Homo sapiens: one gene and its partner. The protein of the gene in region 1 interacts with the protein of each later gene in a pairwise test. Each region holds a gene or a part of one and is shown in the gene's direction. Other genes may lie near its edges.

What was found.
Region 2: the proteins of MBL2 (region 1) and TRMU interact in binary tests that used the Homo sapiens proteins (3 or more experiments, as listed by UniProt).

What each region holds. Positions count from the first base shown.
Region 1 is NC_000010.11:52,764,868-52,769,802, reverse strand, and holds the end of MBL2 (mannose-binding protein C precursor), read left to right. Parts: intron 1-487; coding exon 488-556; intron 557-1,292; coding exon 1,293-1,666; 3' UTR 1,667-4,423; downstream 4,424-4,935. UniProt on the Homo sapiens protein: Calcium-dependent lectin involved in innate immune defense. Binds mannose, fucose and N-acetylglucosamine on different microorganisms and activates the lectin complement pathway.
Region 2 is NC_000022.11:46,331,842-46,338,734, forward strand, and holds the start of TRMU (mitochondrial tRNA-specific 2-thiouridylase 1), read left to right. Parts: upstream 1-3,872; 5' UTR 3,873-3,923; coding exon 3,924-4,005; intron 4,006-5,937; coding exon 5,938-6,103; intron 6,104-6,893. UniProt on the Homo sapiens protein: Catalyzes the 2-thiolation of uridine at the wobble position (U34) of mitochondrial tRNA(Lys), tRNA(Glu) and tRNA(Gln).

The sequences.
Region 1 (4,935 bases):
TCTTGGTTTCCTGACTAACAGAACAAACCTGGAAAAAACAAAAACAAAACAAAAGACATCAAAAGCAAAACCTCTCCAAAGACAAAAACTCTGCAATCTTTTTCGTCACTCTTCACCAGGTCATAATAGAGTAACGCCTCAAGAGATTTCTTTTTAGTTTTGATAGAACAATTTATTTGAAAAAAAAATCTGTGAAGAACCTGGCATATGGATTGCTAGGTAATCAGGGAGTATATGTGTGCATGTGATATGTATGCGTACTTTGGGATACAGTAAACAGACAAAGAGGGACATTTGGGGTTGGATGGAAATAGCGATTTTTCATTCTTTGGGCTTTTCAGTATTTTTTATTTTCCTTCAAAGTGTAAACATCAATGTAAAATAAGCTTTTTTTTTCAGTTTGAAAAAGATACTCCACTCCCTTGTATATGCACAGTTCTGAGGCTCCTTCTCAACAATGCTTCTTTACTTTGTTCTAATTTTCTAGATGGTGATAGTAGCCTGGCTGCCTCAGAAAGAAAAGCTCTGCAAACAGAAATGGCACGTATCAAAAAGTGTAAGCTTTTTCTCTTACTCTCCAGGCAGCTTGAAGTTTGGGAAAAATAGAATGCAACAAATATTTGTTGAATGCATATAATTTTCTGTACCCTGCTAGGCATTTCTCATATTCTTACCTCATGAAATTCTCACAACATTTTGGTAGAAATGGAGGCAAAGGGAAGTTAAATTACTTGTTCAAATGCACAGAGCTAATAAATGGCAGGGGTGGTTTATAGATGGAAGTCAGTCTGACTCGAGAGACCCTAATCCTTTACCGTCTGATATTGCTCACTGAAAATGGGACTTATATCCCTTTGTTGCACTGGTATTGAGACCTGGCCGTGGGGTCTAACCTGCCTGGGGCAAATATTTTCAGACATTTTTTGTTTGGTCTCAAGTTAACAATTTAGAATTCAGAAGTCCAAATTATATGTCTTTTAGAATTCTGATCTGAAAGCACAGAGAGGCCTTTGTACCAGTCTGTCTGTTCACATTTGGGTTGCCATATTTAACAAATAAAAAGACAAAGCACCAGTTAAATTGGATTTCAGCTGAAAAACATTTTTAGTATAAGTGTGTCTGAAAAATTATATGGGAGATATACTAAAATATTCATTGTTTGTCTGAAATTCAAATTTAACTGGACATACTATATTTTATCCGGCAACTGTACTCTAGAAGACTTTTTCTTGAGAAATACCTTGAGTTGGGCTTAAGGATGAGTCAGTTTCACCCACTTTTTCACATTTTAGGGCTCACCTTCTCTCTGGGCAAACAAGTTGGGAACAAGTTCTTCCTGACCAATGGTGAAATAATGACCTTTGAAAAAGTGAAGGCCTTGTGTGTCAAGTTCCAGGCCTCTGTGGCCACCCCCAGGAATGCTGCAGAGAATGGAGCCATTCAGAATCTCATCAAGGAGGAAGCCTTCCTGGGCATCACTGATGAGAAGACAGAAGGGCAGTTTGTGGATCTGACAGGAAATAGACTGACCTACACAAACTGGAACGAGGGTGAACCCAACAATGCTGGTTCTGATGAAGATTGTGTATTGCTACTGAAAAATGGCCAGTGGAATGACGTCCCCTGCTCCACCTCCCATCTGGCCGTCTGTGAGTTCCCTATCTGAAGGGTCATATCACTCAGGCCCTCCTTGTCTTTTTACTGCAACCCACAGGCCCACAGTATGCTTGAAAAGATAAATTATATCAATTTCCTCATATCCAGTATTGTTCCTTTTGTGGGCAATCACTAAAAATGATCACTAACAGCACCAACAAAGCAATAATAGTAGTAGTAGTAGTTAGCAGCAGCAGTAGTAGTCATGCTAATTATATAATATTTTTAATATATACTATGAGGCCCTATCTTTTGCATCCTACATTAATTATCTAGTTTAATTAATCTGTAATGCTTTCGATAGTGTTAACTTGCTGCAGTATGAAAATAAGACGGATTTATTTTTCCATTTACAACAAACACCTGTGCTCTGTTGAGCCTTCCTTTCTGTTTGGGTAGAGGGCTCCCCTAATGACATCACCACAGTTTAATACCACAGCTTTTTACCAAGTTTCAGGTATTAAGAAAATCTATTTTGTAACTTTCTCTATGAACTCTGTTTTCTTTCTAATGAGATATTAAACCATGTAAAGAACATAAATAACAAATCTCAAGCAAACAGCTTCACAAATTCTCACACACATACATACCTATATACTCACTTTCTAGATTAAGATATGGGACATTTTTGACTCCCTAGAAGCCCCGTTATAACTCCTCCTAGTACTAACTCCTAGGAAAATACTATTCTGACCTCCATGACTGCACAGTAATTTCGTCTGTTTATAAACATTGTATAGTTGGAATCATATTGTGTGTAATGTTGTATGTCTTGTTTACTCAGAATTAAGTCTGTGAGATTCATTCATGTCATGTGTACAAAAGTTTCATCCTTTTCATTGCCATGTAGGGTTCCCTTATATTAATATTCCTCAGTTCATCCATTCTATTGTTAATAGGCACTTAAGTGGCTTCCAATTTTTGGCCATGAGGAAGAGAACCCACGAACATTCCTGGACTTGTCTTTTGGTGGACATGGTGCACTAATTTCACTACCTATCCAGGAGTGGAACTGGTAGAGGATGAGGAAAGCATGTATTCAGCTTTAGTAGATATTACCAGTTTTCCTAAGTGATTGTATGAATTTATGCTCCTACCGGCAATGTGTGGCAGTCCTAGATGCTCTATGTGCTTGTAAAAAGTCAATGTTTTCAGTTCTCTTGATTTTCATTATTCCTGTGGATGTAAAGTGATATTTCCCCATGGTTTTAATCTGTATTTCCCCAACATGTAATAAGGTTGAACACTTTTTTATATGCTTATTGGGCACTTGGGTATCTTCTTTTGTGAAGTACCCGTTCACATTTTTGTATTTTGTTTAAATTAGTTAGCCAATATTTTTCTTACTGATTTTTAAGTTATTTTTACATTCTGAATATGTCCTTTTTAATGTGTATTACAAATATTTTGCTAGTTTTTGACTTGCTCCTAATGTTGAATTTTGATGAACAAAATTTCCTAATTTTGAGAAAGTCTTATTTATTCATATTTTCTTTCAAAATTAGTGCTTTTTGTGTCATGTTTAAGAAATTTTTGCCCATCCCAAAATCATAAGATATTTTTCATGATTTTGAAACCATGAAGAGATTTTTCATGATTTTGAAATCATGAAGATATTTTTCCATTTTTTTCTAATAGTTTTATTAATAAACATTCTATCTATTCCTGGTAGAATAGATATCCACTTGAGACAGCACTATGTAGGAAAGACCATTTTTCCTCCACTGAACTAGGGTGGTGCATTTTTGTAAGTTAGGTAACTGTATGTGTGTGTGTCTGTTTCTGGGCTGTCTATTCTAGTCTATTTGTTGATGCTTGTGTCAAACAGTACACTATCTTAATTATTGTACATTTATAGTTGTAACTATAGTCCAGCTTTGTTCTTCTTAAAGTCAAGATTTCCATATAAATATTAGAAACAGCTTCTCAATTTCTACAAAATCCTGATGAGGTTTCTACTGGGACCACATTGAGTCTATCAATCAACTTATGCAGAACTGGCAACTTACTACTGAATCTCTAATCAATGTTCATCATGTATCGCTTCATGTAACTAGAATTTCTTTAACTTAATTGCTATGTTTTGACATTTTTAGTTTAAAAACCTTGTATATCTTGTTTTGGTGGTTTTAGTGATTTTAATAATATATTTTAAATATTTTTTCTTTTCTATTGTTGTACACAGAAATACAGTTAAGTTTTGTGTGTAGTCTTACGATGTTTAGTAAACTCAATAAGTTTATTTCTTAAATCTAGTAATTTGTAGATTCCTCTGGATTTTGTATATGCATAGTCATGTAAGCTGAAAATATGGCAATACTTGCTTCTTCCCAATTGCTTTACCTTTTTTCTTACCTTATTGCACTGGTTAGCAACCCCAATACAGAGACCACCAGATCAGGTATAGACTCCTGAAAGACAATATAATGAAGTGCTCCAGTCAGGCCTATCTAAACTGGATTCACAGCTCTGTCACTTAATTGCTACATGATCTAGAGCCAGTTACTTTGTGTTTCAGCCATGTATTTGCAGCTGAGAGAAAATAATCATTCTTATTTCATGAAAATTGTGGGGATGATGAAATAAGTTAACACCTTTAAAGTGTGTAGTAAAGTATCAGGATACTATATTTTAGGTCTTAATACACACAGTTATGCCGCTAGATACATGCTTTTTAATGAGATAATGTGATATTATACATAACACATATCGATTTTTAAAAATTAAATCAACCTTGCTTTGATGGAATAAACTCCATTTAGTCACATTTTATCTTGTGTATGTATTATTGGAGTGGACTTGTTAATAGTTTGTTTAGAACGTTTGCACCTATGTTCATGAGAGATACTAGCTTTTTTTCCCCTCCTTAATGCACTTGCTATGGTTTGGGGTCAATGTTATGTAAGCCTCATTAAAATGAGCTGTGATGTGCTCTCATGCTCCTTATTATCTAAAATAATTTGTGTAAAATTATACTTTAATGTTAGATAAATTCACCAGTGAAGCCATCTTGGAATGGTGTTTTCTGTTGGGAAATGATTTTAATTTCAGATTTAATTTCCTCATGATCTAAACCTATTCATGTTTTCTGTCTTTTGTTCGGTTTCAGTGAGTTATATTTTTCAATGAATGTGTCAATTTCCTCTGAATATATATGTATTGGCATAAAATTGTTACAATATCTTTGTATTTCTTTTCAATATAAGTAGGATCTATAGCAATGTCTATGTATCTGTTATGATTATTTGCATTTTATCTTTATTTTATTGTATTTTTTTT
Region 2 (6,893 bases), on another chromosome or scaffold:
CCGGAGGGTCCTCAGGGAACCTCTGGTCTGGCCCTCATTTCCCAGGGGTAGAAAAGGAAATCTGAAATTGGATTAAACCATGCAGCAAATATTTACTGAGGCTCTGCTATGGGTCAGGCTGTTTTCTGCTGGGTGCAGCGGGGTGCAGCGCTCAGGTACCCCTTCCCTCTTAGGGCTTCCCACTGGGTAGAGGAGGGAGATGTTCAGCTCCCAGCTCATCTGTAACCAAGCTGTGCCTCAGTTGTCTCCATTCAGGCCCTGGGGGTGAGCCCAGCCTTTGGCCTGTGGCCCCAATCCCGCTGCTGGGGCTCCTCCCCCCTGTGCCCTTCCCCTCCCCGGTGCGGCTTCAGTGCAGCCAGGCTCTCCTTGGTACCCAGGCCAGACAGAGTGATCTGACTTTAACTCTCTACAGACAGACAGGAAGAGGGCCCAGGAGCAGGAGCTGGACAGAGCAGAGCTGCTCCTGTCCTGAGGCTCCAGGCCCATTCCTTTCTGTCTGGGTTTCTCCACTGGGCTCTTCCTGCCGAAGCCACCCAGTCTGAGCTCCCCCACTCCCTCTCCTGGTACACAGGCCCTTGGTTCACCCCTCAGAGGGCTCCGGGTGGGAAGATGCACAGTTAGTTGGAGACTGAAGGGCTCCGTGGCCCCAGGAGGGCCAGCCCCTTTCTCCATAGGATGGCACCGAACACCTCAGCTGCCACTGGAGGGCCACCCTCCCAGGTCCAAGACGTCCAACTTCATGTGATTTTTTACCACATTTCATTAATTTTGTGGAGCAAATGTCTTCCCATTTTACATCTCTGAAATCCACGTCTCTGACATTGCTGTTGGCAGGCGGCACCTGGGATGTCGTCATCCTGGCCATAACTAGCCTGTAGTGGACCTGGGTGATACACAGGGGCCTCTTGGAGCTACGGAGTACCTAAAATACCATATAGTTAACCAAAAAGTAGCAGAAAATATGTGAGCATGGATCTCAGCCATTTTGCGGGTTGGCTGCAACTGGGACTTAACCTGCCATAACCTTAGATCAGCCTGCCACACCCAAGGAGGGCCTGCCCCCAGACCCAGACTCAAGTTTAGACACAGCCTAAACGTGTACCTCTAAATCTGCACAAACTCAGCTGCCCAGATACTGGATTTCCTTATCTCTTCCGGGAAATGCAAGATGAAATTGCCCTCCTGTTGGGTATTTTCCTGATCCTTTATTCTGAAAAAGTGGTCATCCTTTTCCCCACAGGCCCTGTGACCTCCCTCCTGTCTTGCAGCTCCTCCTGGCACCAGTCCCCAGGGCTCTCCTGTTGGTAGTTCCTGCTTTTCTTCTTGGAAATTCCTCGTGGACCTCGAGATCTTTACCCTAAAATAGTTCTGTTGAATTTCACCCTGGCAATGTAAATTGATAGCTTATCTTCACAGATGCCAGACAATGGACAACTCACCATCAGTCCTCTGCTCACCTGAGACAAATGCATGTCTGATTGCTTCCTCTGCCCTATTGTTTATGTGAAAATGCAGATTCACTGAGCCAGACTAAGGCATCAGTGACTGTTCCTCTACCTGCCTCTCACATGGAGATTGTGTATTCAGTGAAAGGCTGATCAAAGACCCAAAGGAATGCAACAGTTTATCTCTTATCTACCTATGACCTGCGAGCTGCCCACCACCCCCAGTTGTTGCGCCTTTCCAGACAGAACCAGTGTACATCTTACACGTATTAATTGATGTCCTGTGTCTCCCTAATATGTATCAAAGCAAGCTGTGCCTCGACCACCTTGGGCACATATCCTCAGGACATCATCCTGAGGCTGTGTCACTGGCATGTCCTTAACCTTGGCAAAATAAACTTTCTAAATTGAAACCTGTCTCAGGTACTTTGGGTTCATACCACAAGGGAGGGTTCTCATGCACATGTGCCTAATAATAACAACTATCACAAAAGACTGCAAAAACCACAACTTTACACAAAGGCTATCGTAACCTTCCTCAAAAAAAAAAAAAAAACAAAAAACTTCTGTTGCAAGGACATCTGCCCAGCAACTGCTTGTCCAACCCTGGAGTGCTGTCACCCTTGTTATTGATCTTTGTAGCCAAAGAATTATCTCAAAACAATGATGTGATCCTCATTTTCCCTTTAAAAACCTTTGTCTTCCTAGGCCGGGCACTGTGGCTCACGCGTGTAATCCCAGCACTTTGGGAGGCCGAGGCGGGCGGATCACAAGGTCAGGAGATCAAGACCATCCTGGCCAACATGGTGAAATGCCGTCTCTACTAAAAATACAAAAATTAGCTGGGTGTGGTGGCATGTGCCTGTAATCCCAGCTACTCCGGAGGCTGAGGCAGGAGAATCGCTTAAACCCGGGAGGCGGAGGTTGCAGTGAGCTAAGATCACGCCACTGCACTCCAGCCTAGTGACCAAGTGAGACTGTCTCAAAAAAATAAATAAATAAAATAAAAACCTTTGTCTTCCTTTACTTCCCTGAATACCCACATAGCTTATTGTGGCATGCATATTCCCATTGCAATGCCCTATTCACAAATGAACATCTTTTTCGTTCAGAGTCTCCCTGTGCTTTAGGTAGACCTTGTCTAGATGCTAACTCGTAGAGAAGAACTCAGCTTGAATATCACCCCTGGGGGATGACCTCCATTCTCTCCTCCTTCCTTTATTCAGCGAGGTTATGAAGCACCTGCCCTGGGCCAGGGGCTTTTCTGGGCATGGAGTAGGAGTGGACAGAACACAAAACCCCTGTCCAACACACCTCACAGACATTAAGGATTGAGTGCTGAGTATGCTTGGAGTCAAACTGTAAAAGATTTGAAGATATTTATTCATGTCATAGTCCCAGGAGATCCTGAGAACACGTGCTCAAACTGGTGGTGCTACAGCTTTTGGTTTCGTACGTTTTAGGGAGACATAAGCCATAAATCAATACATGTAAGATGTAACATTGGTTCCGGAAAGGTGGGACAACTCGAAGGTGGGGTGGGGCTTCCAGGTCATAGGTGGATTCAAAGATTTTCTGGGCCGGGGGCAGTGACTCACACCTGTAATCCCGCCACTTTGGGAGGCTGAGGTGGGCGGATCCCTTGAGGTCAGGAGTGAGAGACCAGCCTGGCAAATACGGTGAAACCCCGTCTCTACTAAAAATACAAAAATTAGCTGGGCTTGGTGGCGGGCGCCTGTAATCGCAGCTACTAGGGAGGCTGAGGCAGGAGAATCGCTTGAATCTTGGAGGTGAAGGTTGCAGTGAGCCGAGGTCGCGCCCACTACACTCCAGCCTGCGACAGAGCAAAACTCCATCTCAAAAAAATTTAATTAATTAAAAATTAAATTAAATTAAAATACTGTAAAATACTTCGATATCTTTCAGGGCCTGCCATCTGTCATGTCGGTATCCTATTGCTACGGAGAGTCCGCCTAGACAGTCTTAAGTCTGTTTTGACGTTAATGCTGGTCCGAATTCCAAAGGGAGGAGGAGGGTCTAGTGAGGCGGGTCCCACCCGGCCTTTCCCATCAGAGCCCGAACTCGCGGTTCAGGTTCCCTCTAGGACGCCCTTGGCCGAGAGGAGGCCTCCAATGGCTGGCTGGGGGGCTTAGAATTTTATTTTTGGTTTACAGCGCAGAAGAAGAGCAGTGAGGCCGGGGCGCGGGTGGGGAGGGCAAGGCGGCGGCTCAAAAAAAAAGCCAGCCCCTCGCGGCCCGACAGAGTCTCGGCGCCCCGCGGGTCGGTGGAGCCTCAGGGGTGAGCGCAGGCCGGAGACAGGGGAACCCGCCGCGGGACAGGGGAAGGCCGGACGGAACGCGGGTAAGCTGCCGCAGCTTCCGGCCGGGCCACTAGCGCGGACCCTACGGCCGGGGCGGGACTTCCGGCAAGGCGCGGAAGCGGCGGTAGCTGCAGCTGGCGAAGTTGGGCGACTGGCGGATGCAGGCCTTGCGGCACGTCGTGTGCGCCCTGTCCGGCGGCGTGGACAGCGCCGTGGCCGCGCTGCTGCTGAGGCGGAGAGGTGAGGCGTCCGAGGCTCCCGCCCCCCGCCGAGCGAATGTGTCCCCGGAAACCTGTCCCCGTCCGTCGTGGCGTTGTGCACGTCTCCTCCCTCCCTGGGCCGCTGGTTGCGCGCGGGTCGGCAGGAGGATACCCCGTCCTCTGACTTTGGTTCGGAGGCTCCTCGCCCTCCACCTGTGTAGTCGGAGGTGTGCGCGACTGCAGCTCCGACTACCTGGGAGCAGTTCCGCGCCCCTCTCCACCCACGCGCGCCCACCCACAGTGAGAAGCCGGCGGGCCGGGGTGGGGTGGGGAGGGAAGGGTTTCTCACGGATCTGCGGCGTCCACATTCACCTGTGAGACCGTGGACACTGGTGAGGGGAGCTGGGATCGCCGGGCCGGGGGCCTGACCTCTGCACACGCTGTGGCCGCCCGGTGGGAGGTCCTTGTCCTCCCCACTCAGCAGACTGGACAACTGCCGCGCGGCGGGTCTGCTTGTTCAGCGTCTCCTGTGTTCTCCGCTCGCTGGAGGACAAAGTTTTCTCCAGGAGCATTTGCATTTCTTCCGGCATCTAAACGGAGCCCCACGGGTGCTTAGCATTCCTCGGGCCCGGCGCTGAAATGAGCACTTGTTTAACTTCACCTGTGTGGCTCCCCGCGGGAGGCCTCATTCACAGAGTCACGTTTGTGGAGCTCTGCTTTGCGCCATCTTTGGCTCCTGACCTTGGGCAAGTGAATTAAGCCGTCCCCTGTAAAATTCGGCTAACACCTGCCTCACGGGGTGACTGGAGGGATTAGATGACATAGTACATACTGATGAGTACGTGCTCAGCACATACGAGGTACGCAGAAAACAGTAGTGGCTATTAGTTTATATTGTTAATAACCATAGCTATTATGGTAGGTACAGTAAGTGCCAAAGAGAAGGGTAGGCGGACCATAAGCAGAAATAGTTGTGAGGAAGGGAGAGTGGAGGAAAGCATCCTAGAGATGGAGGTGCTCAGCTGAGTCGAAAGAAGAGTAGGATGTCACTAAGCAGAGACTTGGAGGTGGAGGCGGCCCTCCCGGCACAGTCAGCAGTGCAAGCAGAATCACAGAGGCCTGCAAGTGTGGGCTGGTTCTGGCCAGATGGAGATGGAAGGAGAGGAGCCTGGAGCACGTTTAGCCCTGATTATGGAAGATGCTATACCAGGGGCTTTAGACTGTTAGGTAGACATTAGTCTGGTTGATCTGGGATAGGGGTGGTCTTTCGCGTGTGGTGGTGTAGTTTTGACAAAGCTTTGTCATCAAATTTCTGTTGTTTTGGGTACTATATGAAGCCTTCTTCAGCAGTCATTTGCCCTGTCTTTCATTACATTCAGCCTACCTAAACGAACCAGCTTTCTCATACAGGGTCTGCACCTGTGTAGTTTGCTAAGGTGGTGTAGGGCTAAAGTTGGCCTTTCCAATATTTGGGTGAATATTTTGTTACAATCGAAAAGGTAGAAAATAGGTCATAAACTAGGTGGTACAGCTCTTACAAAATATCGAAAATTTTAATTATCTTTATATCTGATCACTTAGAATCTAAGTCTTAGATAGTAACTAGAAATAACTTTTGAAAAGAGTTTCCTTTTTTGATAACTGAATGGTGCTTTGAAAAATTTTGTTGAGTTTCGACTATTCCTTCGTGTATTCCACACACACTGGCTGATCCCCTCCTGCTAGGTATTGTGCTGATACATAGATGGGGACACAAAGATGAGAAAATACCACCTCGTTAATCTTGGGGACTCAGGCACCAAGATGGAAACCGGATCCCTGAAGCCACATGGCAAAGCAGGGACTGCCCGGCAGGCCAGGCACAGAGGCACAGGAGCACAGCGTGTGGGGAACTTCTCAGAGCTCAGAAATCACTGCCGTTTTACCGAAGGTTGATTTATGTATTCTCTTTAATTGACCTTCCCGCCCGCAGGTTACCAGGTGACAGGGGTGTTTATGAAGAACTGGGACTCACTGGATGAACATGGGGTCTGTACTGCCGACAAAGACTGTGAAGATGCTTACAGAGTTTGCCAGATCTTAGACATCCCTTTCCATCAAGTGTCCTACGTAAAGGAGTATTGGAATGATGTGTTCAGGTGAGTGCGGGTCACAGCACAAAGGAAGCTTCCTCACACTGTGGATCCTTGCAGTGGAAGGATCCGGTAACCAGCCAGACCGACGCCTGTGCTGCAGCCCAGCGCTCTCCCTCCACGGTGGTGCTGAAGACTGCAAGAGGCCTCAGCCACCCTCGGGGCTCTGTGTTAGAGGCGAGGCCTGGACCCCACAGCACACCCAGCTCTCTCACTCCTGTCATTTTGCCACTTGCCTGAAGTCTCTTTAATGCTTTCTTGGACCTTGAGCTGTTTCTGTTGCCCAGTTAGGATAGGGGAGCTAAGGCTGAGGGCTCCCCTGGAAGGTGAGCACCAATGCCTGTGTGCTATGTGGGTCAGCGATTAGGGGATTTCTGAGAAAGAGGTGATACATGGCCTGTGCCTCTGAAAACAAGAAACAAACAAAAACTTTTCTAAAATCCAATATAATCTCAATAATTAAGTGCTGTGTGCTAGGCGTGTGCCACATCTAGGAACATTAAGATGTCTTCACTGTGACCTGGCTCTGTAGGAGTTTGCGGTCTAGTTGGGAGGACATTATCTTCACAAGAGGTGACAGTGATGCGTGGCACGCAGGAAGTACCAGTGATGCTATCAGTCACTGAACCCAGAGGAGGGAGAAACTTGCAGTGTGGAGTAATCAAGAAGGCTTCACCGGAGAGGAGGGGTTGCAAACAAAGTTGTAGAGAAGGGACTCCAAATGGGGTAACGAGAGCAGCGTGAAGGGGAGAAGAAATGCTGATTGTGTATTTCAGGACCGTTGTAAAGTTTGGCT